Linked DNA regions of Homo sapiens: region 1 is linked to region 2. Evidence: fine-mapped expression QTL. A gene starts in region 2. The other region holds a variant in brackets. All regions are shown on one strand. Distances are from middle to middle.

What was found. PIP is the estimated chance that this variant, and not a neighbour inherited with it, causes the effect.
Region 1: its variant is the best candidate, but not a certain one, in a credible set for the expression of SERINC1 in whole blood (INTERVAL, PIP 0.81).

Annotation. Positions count from the first base shown.
Region 1 is chr6:122,688,353-122,692,883 of GRCh38, reverse strand. All of the region lies in intron 3 of PKIB (cAMP-dependent protein kinase inhibitor beta), which reads right to left. Among named protein-coding and RNA genes, the nearest start is that of PKIB, 80 kb to the right of the region's middle. The variant A/TA (reference allele first, on the strand shown) is at 1,950.
Region 2 is chr6:122,469,376-122,473,375 of GRCh38, reverse strand. It overlaps SERINC1 (serine incorporator 1), which reads left to right and starts at 1,569. Exons shown (of 10, transcript NM_020755.4): 1 at 1,569-1,677. The coding sequence starts at 1,639. It also overlaps a transcript of PKIB not described here. RefSeq lists enhancers at 1,410-1,469, 1,520-1,919.

The DNA.
Region 1 (4,531 bases), 220 kb before region 2:
AATCAGAAGGCTTTATGTAGTCTGAAACATAATGTTTCTTTGATGTATTTTTAATCTAAAATAAGGTAGCCCAGATGAGGGATAGATCTTGATGGCTGAATAGAAGCCTCTACCTATTGTCCCCCTGACAGAAACAACAATTTAATTTAACAACTATCTACACCTTTATAAGAACCAAAAATCAGGTACCAGCTCAACCACAGTGGGGTAGAGCACCAACCAGCCTTGTGAGGCCCCAATTCTAGGCCTTGGCTCTTGGATGGCATTTCTGGACCTGCCATGGGCCAGATGGGAGCCCACTGCCCTGAAGGGTGAGTCGCAAGCCTGGAAGCATTCACCACAAGCTGACTGAAGAGCTTTAGGCAAGTAGTGAAAATAAGCAATGGCCTGGAAGTACTCCCCATGGGGCTGTGGTGGTGGCCACAGAGAGAGATTCCTCTGGCTGTGGAAAGGAGGGGAAGGTGGGAAGGACTTTGTCTCATGGTCTGAGTGCCAGCTTAGCTGTAGTAGAATAGAGCAACAGACAGATTCCTGAGGTTTTGACTCCAGTTCCTGGCTCCCATTTGACATCTCTGAATTCACTCAATGTGCCAGGGAATTCACTGCCCTGAAGGGAGGACACAGGTCTGACTGGCTTTGCTACTGGCTGATCGTAGAGCCCTAGGGCCTTGAGCAAACATAGGCTATAGACAGGGGATGGTTACAGCGGGCCTTGGGCAAGACTCAATGCAATGCTGGCTTCAGATCTGACCCAGAGCAGTCCCAGCACTGGTGGTCACAGGGGTGCTTGTGTCACCCTTCTTCCAGCTCCAGGCAGCTCAGCACAGACAGGGAGACTCTGTTTGTTTGGGAGAAAGTAAAGCAAGAGAGCAAGAGTCTCTGCCTGGTAATACAGAGTATTCTTCTGGATCTTATTGAACATCACTAATGTGGTACCTCTACAAGCCTACAAGAACCACAGTGTTACTGGGCTTGGGGTACCCTGTAATGCAGATATGCCTTAGATCACAATACCCAAATCCTTTCAAATACCTGAAAAGGCTTCCCAAGAAGGATAAGTAAAAACAAGCCCAGACTGAGACGACTACAGTAAATACCTAACTCTTCAAGGCCCAAACACCAATGAACATCCACAAGCATCAAAAACATTCAGGAAAACATGGCCTCACCAAATGAACTAAATAAGCTACCAGGGACCAATCCTGGGGAAAAAGAGATATGTGACCTTTCAGACAGAGAATTCAAATTAGCTGTTTTGAGGAAAGTTAAAAAAAAAATCAAGATAACACAGGGAAGCAATTCAGAATTCTATCGGTTAAATGTAACAAAGAGATTGAAATAATTAAGAAGAATCAAGCAGAAATTCTGGAGGTGAAAAATAAAATTGACATACTGAAGAAGGCATCAGAGTCTCTTAATAGCAGAATTGATACAGCAGAGAAAGAATTAGTGACCTTGAAGACAAGTTATCTGAAAATACAGTCAGAGCAGACAAAAGCAAAAAGAATAAAAAGGAATAAAGCACTCATACAAGATCTAGAAAATACCCTCAAAAAGGCAAATCTAAGAGTTATTGGCCTTAAAGAGTAGGTAGAGAAAGATACAGGGGTAGAAAGTTTATTCAAAAAGATAATGAAAATTTCTCAAACCTAAACAAAAATATCAATATCTAAGTACAGGAAGGTTATAGAATATCAAGAATATTTAACTGAAAGGAGACTACCTTAAGGCATTTAATAATCAAACTCCCAAAGGTCAAGGATAAAGAAAGAACCCTAAAAGCAGTAAGAGAAAAGAAACAAATAACATATAATGGAGCACCAATATGTCTGGCAGCAGGGTTTTCAGTGGAAAATTTAGGGCCGGGAGAGAGTGGCATGCCATATTTAAAGGGCTAAAGGAAAAAAACCTTTTACCCTAGAATAGTATATTTGGCAAAAAAAAAAAAA[A/TA]ATATATATATATATATATCCTTCAAGCATGAAGGAGAAATAAGGACATTTCCAGACAAACAAAAGCTGAAGGATTTCATCAACACCAGACCTGTCTTACAAGAAATACTAAAGGGAGTTCTTCAATCAGAAAGAAAAAGAAATGTTAATGAGCAAGAAGAAATCACCTGAAGGTACAAAACTCACTGTTACTAATAAGCACGCAGAAAAATACAGCATATTATAACACTGAAATTGTGGTGTGTAAATTACTGTTATATTAAGTAGAAAGACTAAAAGGTGAACCAATCAAAAATAATAACTGAGACAACCTTTCAAGACATAGACAGTATAGTAAGATATAAATAGAAACATCAAAAACTTAAAAAAGCAGGGAGAGGAAGTTAAAGTATAGAGTTTTTATTAGATTTCTTTTTGCTTGTTTGTTTGTTTATGCAATTAGTGTTAGGCTGTCATCAGTTTAACATAACGGGTTATGAGATAGTATTTGCAATCCTCATGGTAACCTGAAATCAAAAAACATACAACAAATACACAAAAAAATAGAAGGTAAGAAATTAAACTATGCCACCAGAGAAAATCATCTTCACTAAAAGGAACGCAGGAAAGGAGAAAAGACCACAAAACAACTAGAAAACAACTAAATGGCAAGAGTAGTCCTTACCTATCAATAGTAACATTGAATGTAAATGGACTAAATTCTCCAATAAAAAGACACAGAGTGGTTGAATGGATTAAAAAAAAAAAGAAAGACCCAATGATCTGTTGCCTATAAGAAACACACTTCACCTACAAAGACACACACAGACAGAAAATAAAGATGGAGAAAGATATTCCATGCTAATGGAAGTCAAAAAAGAGCAGGAGTAACTATACTTATATCAAAAAAAATGTACTTCAAGACAAAAACTATAGGAAGAAACAAAGGTCATATAATGATAAAGGGGTCTATTAAGCAAGAGGATATAACAATTTTAAATATATATGCATCCAACACTAGAGCATCTAGATATATAAAGCAAATATTATTAGAGCTGGAGAGAGAGATAGACTCCCAACATAATAATAGCTGGAGACTTCAACATCCCACTTGCAGCACTGGACAGATCTGCTAGACAGAAAATCAACAAAGAAACATTGGACTTAATCTGCATTATAGACCAAGTGAACCTGATAAATATTTACAGAACATTTTATCCAACAGCTGCAGAATACACATTTTTCTCCTCAACATACTGCACATTCTCAAGAATAGACCATATGTTAGACCACAGAACAAGTCTTAAAACATTTTAAAAATTGAAATAATATCAAGCATCTTCTCTGACTACCATGGAATAAAACTAGAAATCAGGAGGAATTTTGGAACCTATACAAACACATGGAAATTAAACAATATGCTCCTAAATGACCAGTAGATCAATGGAGAAATTAAGAAGGAAATTGAAAAATTTCTTGAAACGAATGATAATGGAAACACAACATACCAAAACCTGTGGAATTCACAAAAACAGTACTAAGAGGGAAGTTAATAGCAATAAGCACCTACATCAAAAAAGAATAAAATTTCAAGTGATCAACTCAATGATGCATATTAAAGAACTAGAAAAGCAAGAGAAAACTGAACCCACAATTAGTAGAAGAAAAGAAATAAACATCAGAGCAGAAGTAAATGGAATTGAAATGAAGAAATAACACAAAGGATCAATAAAACGAAAATTCGGTTTTTAGAAAAATAACCAAAATTGACAAACCTTTAGCCAGACTAAGAAAAAAAGAGAGAAGACCCAAATAAATAGAATTAGAGATGAAAAAGGAGATGTTACAACCAATACCAGAGAAATTGAAAGGATCGGCCAGGTGTGGTGGCTCACGCCTGTAATCCCAGCACTTTGGGAGGCCGAGGTGGGCGGGTCACGAGGTCAGGAGATCAAGACCATCCTGGCTAACATGGTGAAACCCCGTCTCTACTAAAAATAAAAAAAAATTAGACGGGCGTGGTGGCGGGCGTCTGTAGTCCCAGCCACTCGGGAGGCTGAGGCAGGAGAATGGCGTGAACCCGGGAGGCGGAGCTTGCAGTGAGCCGAGATCGCGCCACTGCACTCCAGCCTGGGCGACAGAGCAAGACTCTGTCTCAAAAAAAAAAAAAAAAGAAAGGCTCATTAGTGGCTACTATAAGTAACTATATGGAATAAATTGGAAAATCTAGAAGAAATGGATAAATTTCTAGACATGCAATCTATCATACAATCTATCAAGATTGAACCATGAAGAAATACAAAACCTGAACAGACCAATAACAAGTAACAAGACTGAAGCCATAATAAAAAGTCTCCCAGTAAAGTAAAGCCTGAGACCCAATGGCTTCACTGCTAAATTCTACCAAACATTTAAAGAAGAACTAATACCAGTCCTACTCAAAGTATTCCAAAAAAAACAGAAGAAAAGAATACTGTCAAATTCATCCCATAATGCCAATATTACCCTGATTCCAAAACCAGACAAAGACACATCCGAAAGAGAAAAATACACACCAATATCCCTAAAGAATATCAATCCAAAAATCTTCAACAAAACACTAG
Region 2 (4,000 bases):
AAACCCTCTTAAATGGAGCAAGAGACAAGAATCTGTGCAAATTTAAATTTTAAGAGACCCATTCTCCATTTGGCTAATAAACATATTCTTTACGACCTTAAAGTTACTCACATATAAGTGTTTTTTGTCTCCTTCTCTGGTACTTTGAAAAGTTTAAGGACTTGAGATACTAGGATTCTCTTCTCCCATAAATAACGTATTAAGTTTAGCATAATTAAAAATATTGTTAGGTTTGTAATTTCCATTTCCACTATTCTTTTTTTTTGAGACGGAGTCTCGCTCTGCAGCCCAGGCTGGAGTGCAGTGGCCCAATCTCGGCTCACTGCAACCTCTGCCTCCCGGGTTCAAGCAGTTCTCCTGCCTCGCCTCCCGAGTAGCTGGGATTACATGCGCGTGCCACCATGCCCGGCTAATTTTTTGTATTTTTAGTAGAGATGGGGTTTCACCATGCTGGCCAGGCTGGTCTTGAACTCCTGGCCTTGTGACCCGCCTGCCTCAGCCTCCCAAAGTTCTGGGATTACAAGCATTTCCACAATTCTTTAAACCTTATGGATGCTCTATTATAATACTTTGCTTTAAGAGTGGTCTACAAAACCACAGATAAGGCAAAGAAGAATAAAGCAAGATTGTCCCTTAGTGGTTACAATAACTAGGAGTAGGGATTCTGACATTCTTCCAGATTCTTAGGTGTTTACCCCACCTCGACCCATGCAATTTTTGTAGATTTTACAACACTTTCTTATTATTAGTTATGGGAATGACTATTTCAAGTTTGAGCTGTTTCCCAGAATATTTTCAAGAACAAATAACTCTAAAAAAATAACTGGAACTTTTATAGGAATGCATTCCCTGCAGATGTGCATCATCACCTAATATGCAAGGGTTCCACATGCCTCAACAGCTCATGACATTCGAAATCAATGTTTGAGTTTGATAATGTCTTATCTAACTAATTAAAAATAATTTTAACGTGCAAATTTCTTGTAACATCTTAATAGCATAAGAAATTAAAATATAAGTCAATAGCAAACAGAAATGATACAGAGAAACTGAAGCACACAGATGAATATAAATATCCCAATAAAACTTGTTCCGGGCAGCGGGCTGCAGGAATACGTTGCAAACGCAAGAGCAAAACAGGATGCAAACGTGGGAAAAATGGGAAATAAGTGGAGTTAGGACGGACAAAGACTGAGAAAGAGGAAGCAATCCCCTAAAAAGCAGAGAGGTTCCTCAGATGAAGGAGGGCAAAACGTCAACCACCACCTCAGCTCTGTTCTCTACTAATGCCCAAATGCAAGTGCATGGTAGGTAAAGGTGGGTTTTGCTCACACCGTTTTCTTAATTTGGCAAACTACGGTCAGATCCACATTAGCCGTTAAGTTTCCAGCCAGCAGTCCTTGAGAAATTCTCCAGGAAAGAAGACAGCCGTGTCGTCTAGTGACGCGCATGCGCAGTCTCAGCGCTGCGCGCTCCGTGTTTTATCCTACCCAGGCCTGGAAGGAAGTGACGCGAGGCTGAGGGGCGGGTTGCGCTGTGCGTCCGGAAGTGTCTCGCAGATAGTAAATAATCTCGGAAAGGCGAGAAAGAAGCTGTCTCCATCTTGTCTGTATCCGCTGCTCTTGTGACGTTGTGGAGATGGGGAGCGTCCTGGGGCTGTGCTCCATGGCGAGCTGGGTAAGGTGCTTTTTGCGGCCTCTGGGGTGCTAGTGTGAGAGACCAAAGAGAAGGCGATCCGAGCCGGGGCTGGGTGAGCCCGGCGGGAATGTGGTGCCCCACCCAACAGGGAGTGCCCTCTCTGTCCCCGTTTTCTTCCCGTCTCCTCTCGTCACTCAGACTCAGCTTCAGAGCTTTGGGTCTTGCGAAGAACTGATCACTGGCCGTAAGGTTTAGTGGCGATGGGAAGATGACTCAAATTGAGGAAGAGAACTAGAATAGGGCCCCTCCCCCACCCCTGCTTCGTGAACGCTGTCTCCCATTCTTTGAGGTCCCTTTTCGTGGTTTTGTTTGTATCTGCGCAGGCCATCTCTACAAAGGTCTTTGCCCCTTTCCTTCGGTGGGGTACCCACTCTGTTGTCATCTCTTTCCTGGCGACCTCAGACTGCCGCACTGTCGTTCCTGGATTCATGTCGCCCTCTTTGTTCAGTGGCGCAGATTATGATTAAAAAGTGCCTGTCGTCATTTGGAACCGCCTGGCAGTAATGCTAATGTAGTAATATTGTTTTTGAAACAAATAGTCATAGCTCTGCCGTAACTGTTTGAAGTGTCAATTTCAGATTTCAACTTAAAATTGAAATTTCAGATGACACACGCATGCCTTGTGCCTAATGACAATTTTGTCTTTAGGCACAAAACATGCGTGTGTCATCTGAAATTTCATGCTTAATTAGCTGTACATTGCATTTTCATTAAAGAGTTGTTAGAGTAAAACTATTTTCAGTATAGTGGCAAGACTTTGGTCCGTGTGGCACAAATTTCAGTTTATTTAAGATAATCTCTGCCCCCTCCAAAATAGTAGGCAAAACATTGGCAGTGCAGTTAATAAAGATATTTGTAATTTTAGGCGAGGTATTTGGACTCAAATCACTTTTCTTTAGTCTGGAATTTGTTAATTCTGTTTCTAACAATTGCTTTTCTGACTTCCCAAATGATTCCGTTATATATACTCTTAAAGGTTTTGATATGTCTTGAACTAAAAATGTTGAATTTTAATCAAATAATAATGTGGGGATTGTTACTCCAGCCAGTCTGTTCTTTTGATTATATGGTATTTCTTCTTGCACGGAAGCCTGGAATATTTTATCTCAAGATATTAGAGAGTTTAATTATTGACTTTTATACAAAAGAGGCATATTTAGTGTGATAAACAGTTTTGAAAACTGATAATTGATTATCATATAAGATTGTTTTCATCGGTTTTTTATTGGAAGATGTTATGCAATTCAATTTGTAATGTCGTATCTTGTCCAGTTATGAAGTGGGCGTGCTGTAGTTTTTTGTATATAATAGAGATTTAAAAGATGAGATACATGTTTTCCCTTTTACAAAATAGATCGCCACCTTTATTGATTAGAAGAATGTCCGTGATAAAATTGACCCTGCCTTTTAGTTTCTGTGTTAATAGCGAAGTACATTAAAAAGGTAGAAGCAGTGAGGCAGTTTTTTAGAGATGGGGGTCTAAGTGTATTGGCCGGGCTGAAGTGCAGGGGATGGTCGTAGTGAACTGCAGCCTGGAACTGCTGGGCTTAAGTGTAACCTCAGCCTCCCAGGTAGCTGGTACTACAGGCAGGTGCTACCGTGCTCAGTTTGGAATTTATTTTATTGTTTGCAGTTTCAGTAATCTTTTTCCCTTTTCTTCCTTGTGCCTCTGTCTCTATTCATTAATTGTTTGATTTTACTGCAGGCCAATAGTCATTGAAGGGGACCATCTCTTCCACATTCTTAACAGTTAATGTGCTCATTTACTTAGAGGTTTTGATGAAATTAAAATTTATTCAGCTTTTCAAAAGTAACACTCAGAGCCTGCTGCAGTGGCTCACGCCTGTAATCCCAGCACTTGGGAGGATGAGGTGGATGGATCACTTGATGTCAGGAGTGGGAGACCGCCTGGTCAATATGGTGAAACCCCGTCTCTACTAAAAATACAAAAAAAAATAGCTGGGTATGGTGGCACATGCCTGTAGTCCCAGCTACTCGGGAGGCTGAGGCAGGAGAATTGCTTGAACTGGGAGACGGAGGTTGCAGTGAGCTGAGATCATGCCACTGCACTCCAGCCTGGGCAACAGAGCAAGACTCCATCTCAGAAAACAAAACAAAACAAAACAAAAAAACAAAAATCAGCCGGATGTGGTGGCGCACACCTGTAATCCCACTCGGGTGGCTGAGGCAGGAGAATCTCTTAAGCCCAGGAGGCGGAGGCTGCAGTGAGCCAAGATGGCGCCACTGCACTCCAGCCTGGGCAACAGAGTGAGACTCTGTGTCAAAAAAAAAAAAAACAAAA